Linked DNA regions of Homo sapiens. The protein of the gene in region 3 interacts with the protein of the main gene of each other region in a pairwise test. Each region holds a gene or a part of one and is shown on either strand. Other genes may lie near its edges.

Region 1 (3,655 bases), on a different chromosome or scaffold from region 3:
GCGAGAGAACAGGGGCCACCTACAAAAGCATCCCTGCAGAGGACACTCTGGATCCCAGAGGATAAAGTGGCTTTGACTATGAATGCACCACAGAGATCTCATTGTTTGACCCCAGGGAGGAAGAGCAGCCAAGAGTGAGTCTATGCAAGAGTCTGCAGATAGAAATCTTCTCAGCATCAGGACAGCAGGGAAGCTGTCCATCAGGGGCTTTGTTAGTTGACAACTACATCCCAGGCACGTTTAACAGGTGGCTAAGGAAATAAACTATTCATTAAGTAAATAACCAGGAAGGCAACTGCCAGCCCCAAGCTGATCCATCGCCCTGCTCTGTCTATCACTTTCATTGAGGTGCTAATACTCTCAGAATCCCCGTGCTGGGACACTTTTTTGGCACAGAGGTAGAATTTTTATTGGTCAGAAATACCTGGCCTTCCTGCTTCCTGGGGTGGGAAGGGAAGAGAGGGTCAGCAATTTTACAAACCTAAGCACTAAAGCACACCAAAATTCAGAATAAAGTTTCAATACTGAGTTCGCTTAAGAACAACCACTTAGGTAGAAATGAAACCTAATTTCATCTTGTTCCCTATCCTTCCTAATTTTATCTTGTTCCCTATCCTCCCTCCCCCTAGCTCTTCACACCTCCACACCCCAAAACACACACCCAAATTCCCTCTCTCCCTCACAAGAGGGGAATGCTTGCATATTCAAATAACCCGCCCACATAGAGTCTAGACCCTTCCCTCACCACTCAAGACCTTAAAGAGGAAGGCTCCCACCTACCACCAATCCCCACCAAAAAGCCTTTGGGGAAAAAAACTCATTTGAGAATGCAATGGAATTTTAATTTTTCTTTCCTTTTTATCACATCCAAACCATTCATATTAACAGATTAACAAATTAACATTCATTTATAATTATTCCCAACAAATTAAGTTGTTTACAAGTTTCCCTCCATTGTCCAAAATATATGTCCTCATAATAATGCTGTAAGCATCAGGTATCACTTGGTTCAGAACTGGAACACAAGTATCTTATCTGCATGCTGGGTATCCCCTGCACTTAACCATCATAAGCCCTCATTCTGTTGCTTGCTCTGATTGCCTCTGATATCGGCATACTATTCCATGTTAATAACAAATAGGTTGAGTATCCTTTTTCTGAAATGCTTGGGACCAGAAGTGTTTTGGATTTCAGGTTTTTTTCGAACTTTGGAATATTTCATATACATAATGAGGTATCTTGGGGATGGAACCAAAGTCTAAATATAAAGTCCATTTATGTTTTGTTTTATACATACTTTATACACATAGCCTGAAGGTAATTTTTTTTTTTTTGAGACGGAATCTTGCTCGGTCTGCAACCTCCGCCCCCGGTTTCAAGCGATTATCCGGCTCCAGCCTCCTGAGTAGCTGAGATTACAGGCATCTGCCACCATGCCCAGCTAATTTGTTTGTATTTTTAGTAGAGACGGGGTTCCACCATGTTTGTCATGCTGTTCTCAAACTCCTGATCTCAGGTGATCTGCCTGCCTCGGCCTCCCAAAGCGCTGGGATTACAGGCATGAGCCACCGTGCCTGGCCCACCTGAAGGTAATTTTACACAATATTTTAAATAATTTTGTGCATGAAACAAAGTTTGTGTCAAGTACTGGTGTGTGGAAATTCCCACTTTTGGCAATATGTCAGTGCTCAGTTTCAGATTTTAGAGCATTTTGGATTTGGGATTTCTTGATTGGAGCTGCTGAGCCTGTATCATCATTTACTTAATTATTATACTACTGAACATTTAGGTTGTTTGTGATTTTTCACTCACAAGAGTGGTGCCACAGTTAAAAATTTTCATAAGCATAGCTTTTTCCTTTTGGACTATTTCTCGATAATAGATTTCCAGAAGAGTATTACTGAGACATCAAAGTTACAAACATTGTAATAATTTGATACATACGGTGAAAAAATTTCTCAAAAATGGCCGGCCATGGTGTCTCATGCCTGTTATCCCAGAATTTAGGGAGGCCAAGGTGGGTGGATCACTTGAGTCCAGGAGTTCAAGACCAGCCTGGCCAAAATGGCGAAACCCCATCTCTACTAAAAATACAAAAATTAGCTGGGTGTGGTGGTGCATGCCTGTAATCCCAGCTACTCGGGAGGCTGAGGCAGGAGAAATGCCTGAACCCTGGAGGCAGAGGTTGCAGTGAGCCTAGATTACACTACTGTACTCCAGTCTGGGTGACAGAGTGAGACCCTATCTCAAAAAATAATAATGATTTCTCAAAAGGATAATAACCATCTTGCCAGTTACTAAGCAGATACTTTTCTCAAATCCATTGTTCACTTTTCTTTCTTTCATTTTTCTTTTTGAGATGGAGTCTCACTCTGTCACCCAGGCTGGAGTGCAGTGGCGCCATCTCAGCTCACTGCAACCTCTGCTCCTGGGTTCAAGCGATTCTCCTGTCTCAGCCTCCTGAGTAGCTGGGATTACAGGCATGCACCACCACACCCAGCTAATTTTTTGTATTTTAGTAGAGACGGAGTTTCACCATGTTGGCCAGGCTGGTCGTGAACTCCTGACCTCAGGTGACCCAACCACCTTGGCCTCCCAAAGTGTTGGGGTTACAGGTGTGAGCCACCACGCCCAGCCTGTTGACTTTTATTTCGAAAGGAGTTGGTACATTTCAGGAAGTGACCAACAGGTCTTGGTTTGGTGCTAAGTAGGAGACAACTTAGAGCTCCACAGATCATAGAGAATCCCAACCATTTTTGCCTCCATTCCTATCTTCACCTACATTCCCACACCCACACCACCCACCAAAACACTTCTGGTCCCAGGCATTTCAGAAAAAGGATACTCAACCTGTATGCAGATATCAGAGGCGATCAGAACAAGCAACAGAATGAGGGCTTATGATGGTTCAGTGGCGGGGGGAACCCAGCATGGACATAAGATACCTGGGGGAGTAGGAAGATAGTTCACCAAAACAATCCTGACAGCCCCTCATCATTGGGACCATTATTTATCATTAGATAAATAATGACGGCTGACTGCTCATTATTTATCATTAGATAAATAATGACTGCTTATTATTTACCCCCTAATTTCTGGACATTTCCTTGCCTTCTGCTTCACTGTTCCCTGAGCCTGATTGCCTTCCCTCTCTCCCTCTTACACGTGCCTTATTTCATCTCATCCCTAAGCAGCTTTTTCTAGCTTAGTTCTAATGTCTTCCTCTCAGTCAGTACGCACTGGGATCCAGAAGCACGAGATACTAAAGTGTTTAGGGTTATTTCCTGCCCTGAAGCATCTCAGCCTAGCAGGAAAACAGGCATGCAGATGCAATTTACTTTTTTTTTTTTTTTTTTTGAAACGGAATCTCGCTCTGTCGCCCAGGCTGGTGTGCAGTGGCGCAATCTCAGCTCACTGCAAGCTCCCCCTGCTGGGTTCACGCCATTCTCCTGCCTCAGCCTCCCAAGTAGCTGGGACTACAGGGGCCCGCCACCACGCCCGGCTAATTTTTTTGTATTTTTAGTAGAGAAGAGGTTTCACCGTGTTAGCCAGGATGGCTATGATCTCCTGACCTCGTGATCCGCCCGCCTCACCTCCCAAAGTGCTGGGATTACAGGCGTGGGCCACCACGCCTGGGCCATTTTTTTTTTAAACC
Region 2 (3,655 bases), on a different chromosome or scaffold from region 3:
ATTTCTTGGTGCACAAGAAGGATAAAAATGCAAATGTATGGTATGTAAGATCATGTTAGCAGCCAGTGTTGGAGTAAGACATGGATCTTGACCCTATGGTTTTTGTGTAGACTGTTCCAATAAATCACAACCAGGAAGGCCAGCAAGTGTAGATGAGAGACAGGATACAGAATCCCTCATGATAAAGACTATGAGGAGAATGAAGTAGGAGAAGCTGATGAAAAGTGGGTGGATGATGGAGATCAGAATGATCCATCTCAATGAGATGAATTAGCAGATGTTTGTATGTCTCTAGATATTTAACTGACCCACTATATTCCTCAAGGATACTGCATTTGGACATAATACAAATTGGCAGTTTGGAATGTTGAACTTAAAGTCTTGCAAAATGTGGTACATGCTAGATGGTAGTTATGTTGCTATGAGGACTATATGATCAAAGCCTTATAGCAAAAAAAATTTTTTAATATTTGCAAAGGACTGTACAGCAAACAACCATGTGGTTGAATTACATGCAGTCCTCATATATTCAGTTGGTTAGCAAACTAAAGTATTTTTTATTTATGGGATGTACAGTAACTATTGGGTCTTACGGAAATATAGTACCTGTCCTTATAGAGCTCACATTCATGTGCTACTCTAACATGACTGAAGAAATTCATTATGGAAGTACAGTGATAGTTGACCCAATCACTCAGTTTATCAAACTCCCCAGGCTAGCCTGTACTAGTAGAGTTGTGTTTCTATTTTTATTTTTTACTTTTATTAATTTTATTTTTAATACAGATTTTCAGTAAGGGGCATTTTCAACCTAATTGGTTCTATTTTCTTGTATTTTCCATTTTAATTTGCTTCATAACTTAAACCAAGGCTCTTCCAGTCTTAGTTATTATGTCTCAGTTATGTGCCAATGGGCATGTTTTTAAGAACTGAAGAGGTAATTTATTGCAATGAACTAACTGACCTCCTCCATTCCTTCTTTCCTTTTTGACATGAATTTTACTACCCCACAAATGAAAAATGATGTTGCAAAGTTACTGTGGTGAAGTTGAAAAATATCACTAAAATGATTATAATTTAGTATTAATTTTCTCCTGCTGCTCTAATCTGATAAATTCTTACTATATAGTGTTTTCTGACATGGTATTTGGTTTTATATCTGTTACTTTGGTGCTATTCTTGTTTGCCTTTTCTTATTTTTGCCAGTGTACTATACCTCAGTCCTATTTAGAAGACCTGATGGAAAGAAAAGTCATGTAAATAATAAGTAAAATGATTTGTTTTATGATTTATTCACCATGTCCAGTTTGGTTAGCTTGTTATGCAGTATAAGTGAAATATCAGGTTTTTACCCTATGCTCTTTTTAATCATTAAAATTAATACAAAATGTGTGTGTGGCAGCTGGGGGAGACATTCCGCCATGAAAATTGAGAGAAGGTCCCGGTAAAGAGATTTGCTTCTTTATTTTCTAGGAATATCTAGTCTTCTTAGAGTTGACTGGTCACATCTGGAATGAGGTGCTTCCTGAGAAATCTCTGGATCTCCTTCCAAGCATGTTCCTGTGCAGCTGCGTGTGGGATCACCTCTCCTCCCCAGTGTAACCTCAAATCGTGGGTCGTTGAGGCACAGCACAGAGGAGAATAGGGAGGTTCTATCAGGTGGCCTGCCCCAGGGTAAGATAGCAGGGTCCAGTTGTTCTTCCCATGTCTCTTCAGCTGTCCTATGGCTTGTTCAGCGTGTGCTTTGCTGTTGATAGTCTTATCACCTTCTCCTACAATGAAGAGGAATTGCCCCTGGGCCTCTTCAATAGGAAACAAATATTGACTGGCCCCAACTTGAGTTGTCTCAAAAGTGCGATAGAGCTCTAGTAACCCCAAGGCATTGGTGGATATTAATTGTGCAGAATGGGGAAGGGGCTGATGGATCTGACCATGATATACCTGTGGAATGCCAAAAGGAAAGTTGGTCCCATTAATAAGTACCGTGGCTGTGACTTGCTTTAGGTAAATAGCCATAGATAGTCCAATCTGTACTCCTTGACATACAGAGACTACCCCAACGCCTGAGCCAAAGACCTGAAAAAAATAATAGAAATGAGAAATTATTCTAGCCTTCATTTAGGAAAACTCCACAATCTCAAACAACCAAAGAACTTCACTGGCTAATGAGAACAAAGCAAGTATTAATCCTACCCACATCCCTAGCTATAGAGTTCTGGAATATATAATATGTATTCAAAAGAAATACTCCAAAAATATGTCAAGCTTTACCGACTATATATTACGGATTCAGTATTGTGTTAGGTTCTGAGTTTAAAATGCCCTAAAGAAATGCAAATGTCGCAGGGAAAGTAAGAAATGGCACATGACTATTGTGAATAATGTGGGTCAGGGTATAGATGATTGGTACACTTTCCTCCCTTCAGAGGAAAGGGCACCTTGTAGGAAGAGACTGAGAAAGAAAGTGAGATCAGTAGGATAGAGTTGAACAGAGGATTCTAGATTTGCTTTGTTTTTTCCAAAAGTTTTCTCATTGTGGAGAAAAATGTCATAAAGGAGGCTTGGCTCAGCTTCCTCCCTCATTGTCAGTCATCAAATAAGCATCCTTAAATTATCTATCCTACGGCAAGCACTGGGAGTCACAGAGAGAAAAGGAACAATCTCTTGTCATTAAGGAACTCACTGCCAGATGAAGACACAGGAGGAAAAAAAAAAACACACCAGATGATTGGAGCATCATAAATTCTATGATATGAGAATGTATGTAGGCTAGACTGCCAACCCAGATTAGCAGGGAATAAAGGCAGGATCAAAGAAAGGCTCTCAGAGGAAATGGGCTACAAAACAAATGAGTCTTCGTATTAAAAAATGAAAGCCAAGCCTGGTTAACATAGTGAGACCCTATCTCTACAAAACTAAAAAATTAGTTGAATATGGCGGTGTGTGCCTGTAGGCCCAGCTACTCAGGTTGAGGTGGAAGGATCACTTGAGCCCAGGAGTTCAAGGCTTTAGTGAGCTATGATTGTGCTATTGTACCCCAGCCTGGGCAATAGAGTGAGACCCTGTCTCAAGAAATAAAAATTACAAGAAAGTCAACAAGAAGGAATGGTATTCTATGCTGAGTATAGCAGACTCTGTTAGTTGCCTACACAGGAGCCATTCTCCACAATTTCAAAGCTAATATGACCTTGATTTTGTGTGGCATAGCAATATATCCAGCCCCAAGGGATAAATTCTGATGGATCCTAATCTATTTCCCTTTCTCAGCCTCTCTTCCAAGGCCAACATATTCTACCTAAGGACTTTTTTTGCCCCCCGTGCAAACTGACACAGAATCATGAAGAGAAAGCCTATGTTTATGATCATTCTTTTCAGACTAGGATGCTGGCCTGTTGACTTAATTCCTGAAACTGCCAGAGTCATTTTGTGACCTTCAGAGTAAGGCTAGAAAATTGCAGAAATGTCAATCTAATCTCCTTGATTGAAAACTACACTGAGTTTCTAAGCCAAAGTTTGAACCACCTATCACCAAACCTGTTATGTAAGAGAATAAGATACCTTATGCTGATGTTTAAGCCACCATCAGCCACTTTTCTGAGAAATGTAGCCAAAACATTCCTAATGTATTCACCATAGGAGAAACTCATGCAAAAAC
Region 3 (3,655 bases):
TGAAGGGCCACAGGAGAAAGGAGTCAGTGCCTTCCTCCATCACCTCCTGCTCTGGGCCTCCTGTCCTGACACAGCTGTGTCCACCACTGCCCCAGCTCTCACTGGGCTCCAGAAACACCCTGTCCTCCTCTAGCCCTTCAGCCCTAGAGGTGGCTTTCTGTCGTGTCTTGGGTGCCTCAACAATGTCCTCTGATGGTTTCCTTAACCCTGCCCCACCTAACTAGTCACTTGAAAAGTGCAGGGTGCTCTGGGGTGGGTGGAAATGTGTGTTTATCTGTGTGTGTGTGTGTGTGTGTGTGTGTGTGTGTGTGTGTGTGTGTTGCAACAGACTGAATGTTTCTGTCCCCATAAAATTCCTATGTTGAAATTGTAACCCCTGATGTGATGCTTTTAGGAGGCGGGGCTTTTGGGAGGTAATTAGATCATGAATTACCTCCCTCCTGAATGGTATTAGTGCCCTTATCAAAAAGGCTGGAGAGAAACCACGCCCTCACCCCTTCAACCACGTGAAGACCCAGGGAGTCTGCAACCTGGAAGAGGAAGAGGGTGTTTCACCCGGAGCCCAGGCATGCTGCACCCCAGTCTCAGACTTCCAGCCTCCAGAACCCTGAGAAATAAATGTTCATTGTTTACGCCATCTAGTGCATGGCCATTTGTTACAGCAGCCCAAACTGACTAAGACTTATCTATACACACACACTCGCCCCTTATAGAGAGGGAAAGGCTACTATAATGATTATTTACCAAGCATGAAGACAGTTCAACCCAAAGCAGGATGTGTGTGAATTCACACCACCAAGAGCCTGAGATGTAATCACTACTACTTTGCTTTTGCTCAAACTGCTTTAAAAAGCAGGGACCCCAGGCCCACACAAATCTACAAGTCCTTTTAGCAAATCAGTCAAAGGGACCTTCCCCTGGCTGGACCCAGCCCTGGGTGCATGGCTTGACGCAGGGCACACAGACCAGATTTCAGCCCCTTTCACTCTCTCACGCAAGCTTACCATGTGCAGGACACCCCACCACTGCCAACCGCACCCACATAGGAGCCCCTTCCTCCTCCTCCAACTAACCCACCCTCTGGAATCCAAGCCCTCCTCACCCGAGAGCCTCCCACCTGCCACTCCTGCCAGGTCACTGCAGGCCCCATGAGGTCAGGCAGCCTGTCCTACGGCCGCATCCTCCCCACCCACTCCCACATTAGCAAAACAAGTACAAAGGGAAGGAAGGACACAAATGGACCCTCCTTCAACATGGATACCAGGAAAAACTGTCATTCCTTACAGAATGGCTTCTCACCAATGTCTTGCCAAAACTTCTAGCCCTGTACAAGTAACACAGCCTGGCCAGTAACTACCTCTAAGTATTCCCAAATGTGTTCACCTCCCGCTCTTTTCACCAAAGCCTCCAAATATTGGTGAACTTACAGAGTGAAAGTGCTGATAAATTATAGCGAGGAAGCAGCAATGTGCATGTCAACAAGCATTTCAACAGAAAGATCGGTATGAATTACAAGGCGGGTGAAAAAATGAAACTCACTTTCATAACTTTCTTAACTCAAAGCAAAGGAAAAACAAGCAATGATTATTTGTTTTTAAGAGGAAAGTATGATGCCAGTTTGTCTCATCAGCCACCACGCAAAGCTGTGAAAGATGGCGTGAGGCAGTGCCTGGTGCCCGCACACAGGGGCTGCTCCATGTATTTGATTTCACTTAATGAGAGATGTGCACTGCCCATGGAGTTAAGAAGAAACTGAGCAGATCTGCTCTGTCCAAAATCTCCTCCAGGAAGCTCCCTCTGACATCAAAACTAGCTGTTATGCAAGAAATCACTCAGAATCAGAATCACAGGAGACAGAACATTGTGCTAGGAAACTCTGGCTGCCACCATTTTACAAAGTTCAACCTACTTGTCCTGAACTCTATGGCCTGGGGCTGTCCTTCTGTGCCATTCGCTGCTTGGGAATAAACGGTGGCATTGTATCGGGTGCCAGGCTCTAACCCGACAAGCAGGACTTCCGTGTCTCGGGACTGCTGGCCGGAGGATGGGTCCACAGGTCCCACGAGGGACTCATCATGCACAGGGGCGGTGGGGCTCCCTGCCCGGCTTCTCTCTGTATTGCTGGCATCTGTTTCAAGCACAGGAGACAAAAAGACATCAACCACAAGAGGGACACATCCCCCATTTTCCTTCGGAGCCCCAACCCCATCAGATGGCCATCAGACAGTGGCCACAGTTGGTGCTCCATCAATATCTGCTCCCTTCCTCCTCCAGAGAGAGAGGCAGCCCCATAAAAAGGCCTGATAGCTCCATCTCCATTTGTACTGTTATTCCAGTAGCACCACAGATATCTGGTGCTTCTCTTTCAAACTCTGCTTATTTCAGGTCATTCTCCCTTCTTTGGGTTGTTATCTTCTCCTGTCCCAGCATGGATTTCCAGGGACAGCTCTGTGAAGCAGACTTTGCTAATCAGACCCCACTCAAGACACGTTTCCCTGGACCAGACCCTGGTTGGTGGGGCAGCTGGCTGGTGGGGCAGCTGCAGGGTGTGAAACAGGAGCAGCTGGGCTCCTTAAGTGTGCAGAGGGAGCTGCTCTGAGAATGAAGCTGATGAACAGAAAGAAGCAAGAGGGAGGGATGAGAATTGCCTCATCTCTTTCTCTAAGGCCTCCCGCTAGCAGGAAAATCCACATGAGCCAATAAATTGTTCCTTCTGTCTGAGCTATCCAAAGTCTGGTTTCTGTCACTCGCAAGCAAGGATCCTGACACCCACTCTGTAGCTCTGTTTTCTTAAGTATAAAATGCAGATTAAGTGCCTGTCCTCCTCATGGAGTTATCCTGGGGATCCTCTGCAAATGCTATGAAACCTGCAAATGACAACGCCAACATCAACCAGCAGACGTGATAAGTTCCTCTGAAGGCCCAACTTGGGTTGACACAGCTGTTAGATAGAAAGCTAAAGGGGCCTCTAACTTTCCTGGGTGCCAGACTCTAAAAAGTTTCAATTCCTATTGCTGTTCTCAGCCCCAATGTGTTCCCCTGTAAAATCAGAACACGTTTCCTTCCTTCCTCATGCAGGTGGGGGATCAAACTAAAATGTGGAGGAAAAGCCCTTTATAAATTCTAAATCTCCATACACATGGAAGAGCAATTTATTTTTTAGAACATTTAGTTACTGAAAGTAAGAACCAGTAAGGGAGACGGAAGGTACCCTTTGTAACTCACCCAAGCCACCTTCTGTGCCCAAGGGGTCTCCCTTTGTCTTATTTGATTGTAGAAGATACGGGTTGATGTTGTATTGAACCCCTGGCTTCAGGCCCGAGATATTGACCTGAAGTCTTGAGTCTTGAGTCAACTCCTCATGGCTTCCAATGCTTTCAAGAAGAACCCGGCAGGAGGCAGTGCCATTGCCATTGCTCCAGGAGAGAGCAGCCTTCCTCACACCCGTGAGGGCAACACGGAGATCAGAAACTGGGATCGGCTCTATTTTAAAAATACAACATGCATTAATGGAACAAGATATATGCAGTCACCTTCATTAAGAATGACTGGGGTTCAGTGCTGGGAGCGGGTTTTAAAAGAAAAAAAGAAAGAATGACTGAGGTCACTGATGTCCCAATGTGACTCACTAAAAATACTTCCTTTCTATCAGAGC

Evidence for each region. Proteins that work in one complex are often made in the same cells at the same time.
Region 1: the proteins of PTPRJ (region 3) and PRDM14 interact in a two-hybrid assay, tested with the Homo sapiens proteins (one large-scale study listed by BioGRID and IntAct).
Region 2: the proteins of PTPRJ (region 3) and BAAT interact in a two-hybrid assay, tested with the Homo sapiens proteins (one large-scale study listed by BioGRID and IntAct).

The regions. Positions count from the first base shown.
Region 1 is NC_000008.11:70,061,186-70,064,840, forward strand, and holds part of PRDM14 (PR domain zinc finger protein 14), read right to left. Parts: intron 1-3,655. UniProt on the Homo sapiens protein: Transcription factor that has both positive and negative roles on transcription. Required for the maintenance of embryonic stem cell identity and the reacquisition of pluripotency in somatic cells.
Region 2 is NC_000009.12:101,360,940-101,364,594, forward strand, and holds part of BAAT (bile acid-CoA:amino acid N-acyltransferase), read right to left. Parts: intron 2,077-3,655; coding exon 1,489-2,076; 3' UTR 1-1,488. UniProt on the Homo sapiens protein: Catalyzes the amidation of bile acids (BAs) with the amino acids taurine and glycine. More than 95% of the BAs are N-acyl amidates with glycine and taurine.
Region 3 is NC_000011.10:48,123,441-48,127,095, reverse strand, and holds part of PTPRJ (receptor-type tyrosine-protein phosphatase eta isoform 1 precursor), read right to left. Parts: intron 3,484-3,655; coding exon 3,226-3,483; intron 2,129-3,225; coding exon 1,910-2,128; intron 1-1,909. UniProt on the Homo sapiens protein: Tyrosine phosphatase which dephosphorylates or contributes to the dephosphorylation of CTNND1, FLT3, PDGFRB, MET, KDR, LYN, SRC, MAPK1, MAPK3, EGFR, TJP1, OCLN, PIK3R1 and PIK3R2. Plays a role in cell adhesion, migration, proliferation and differentiation.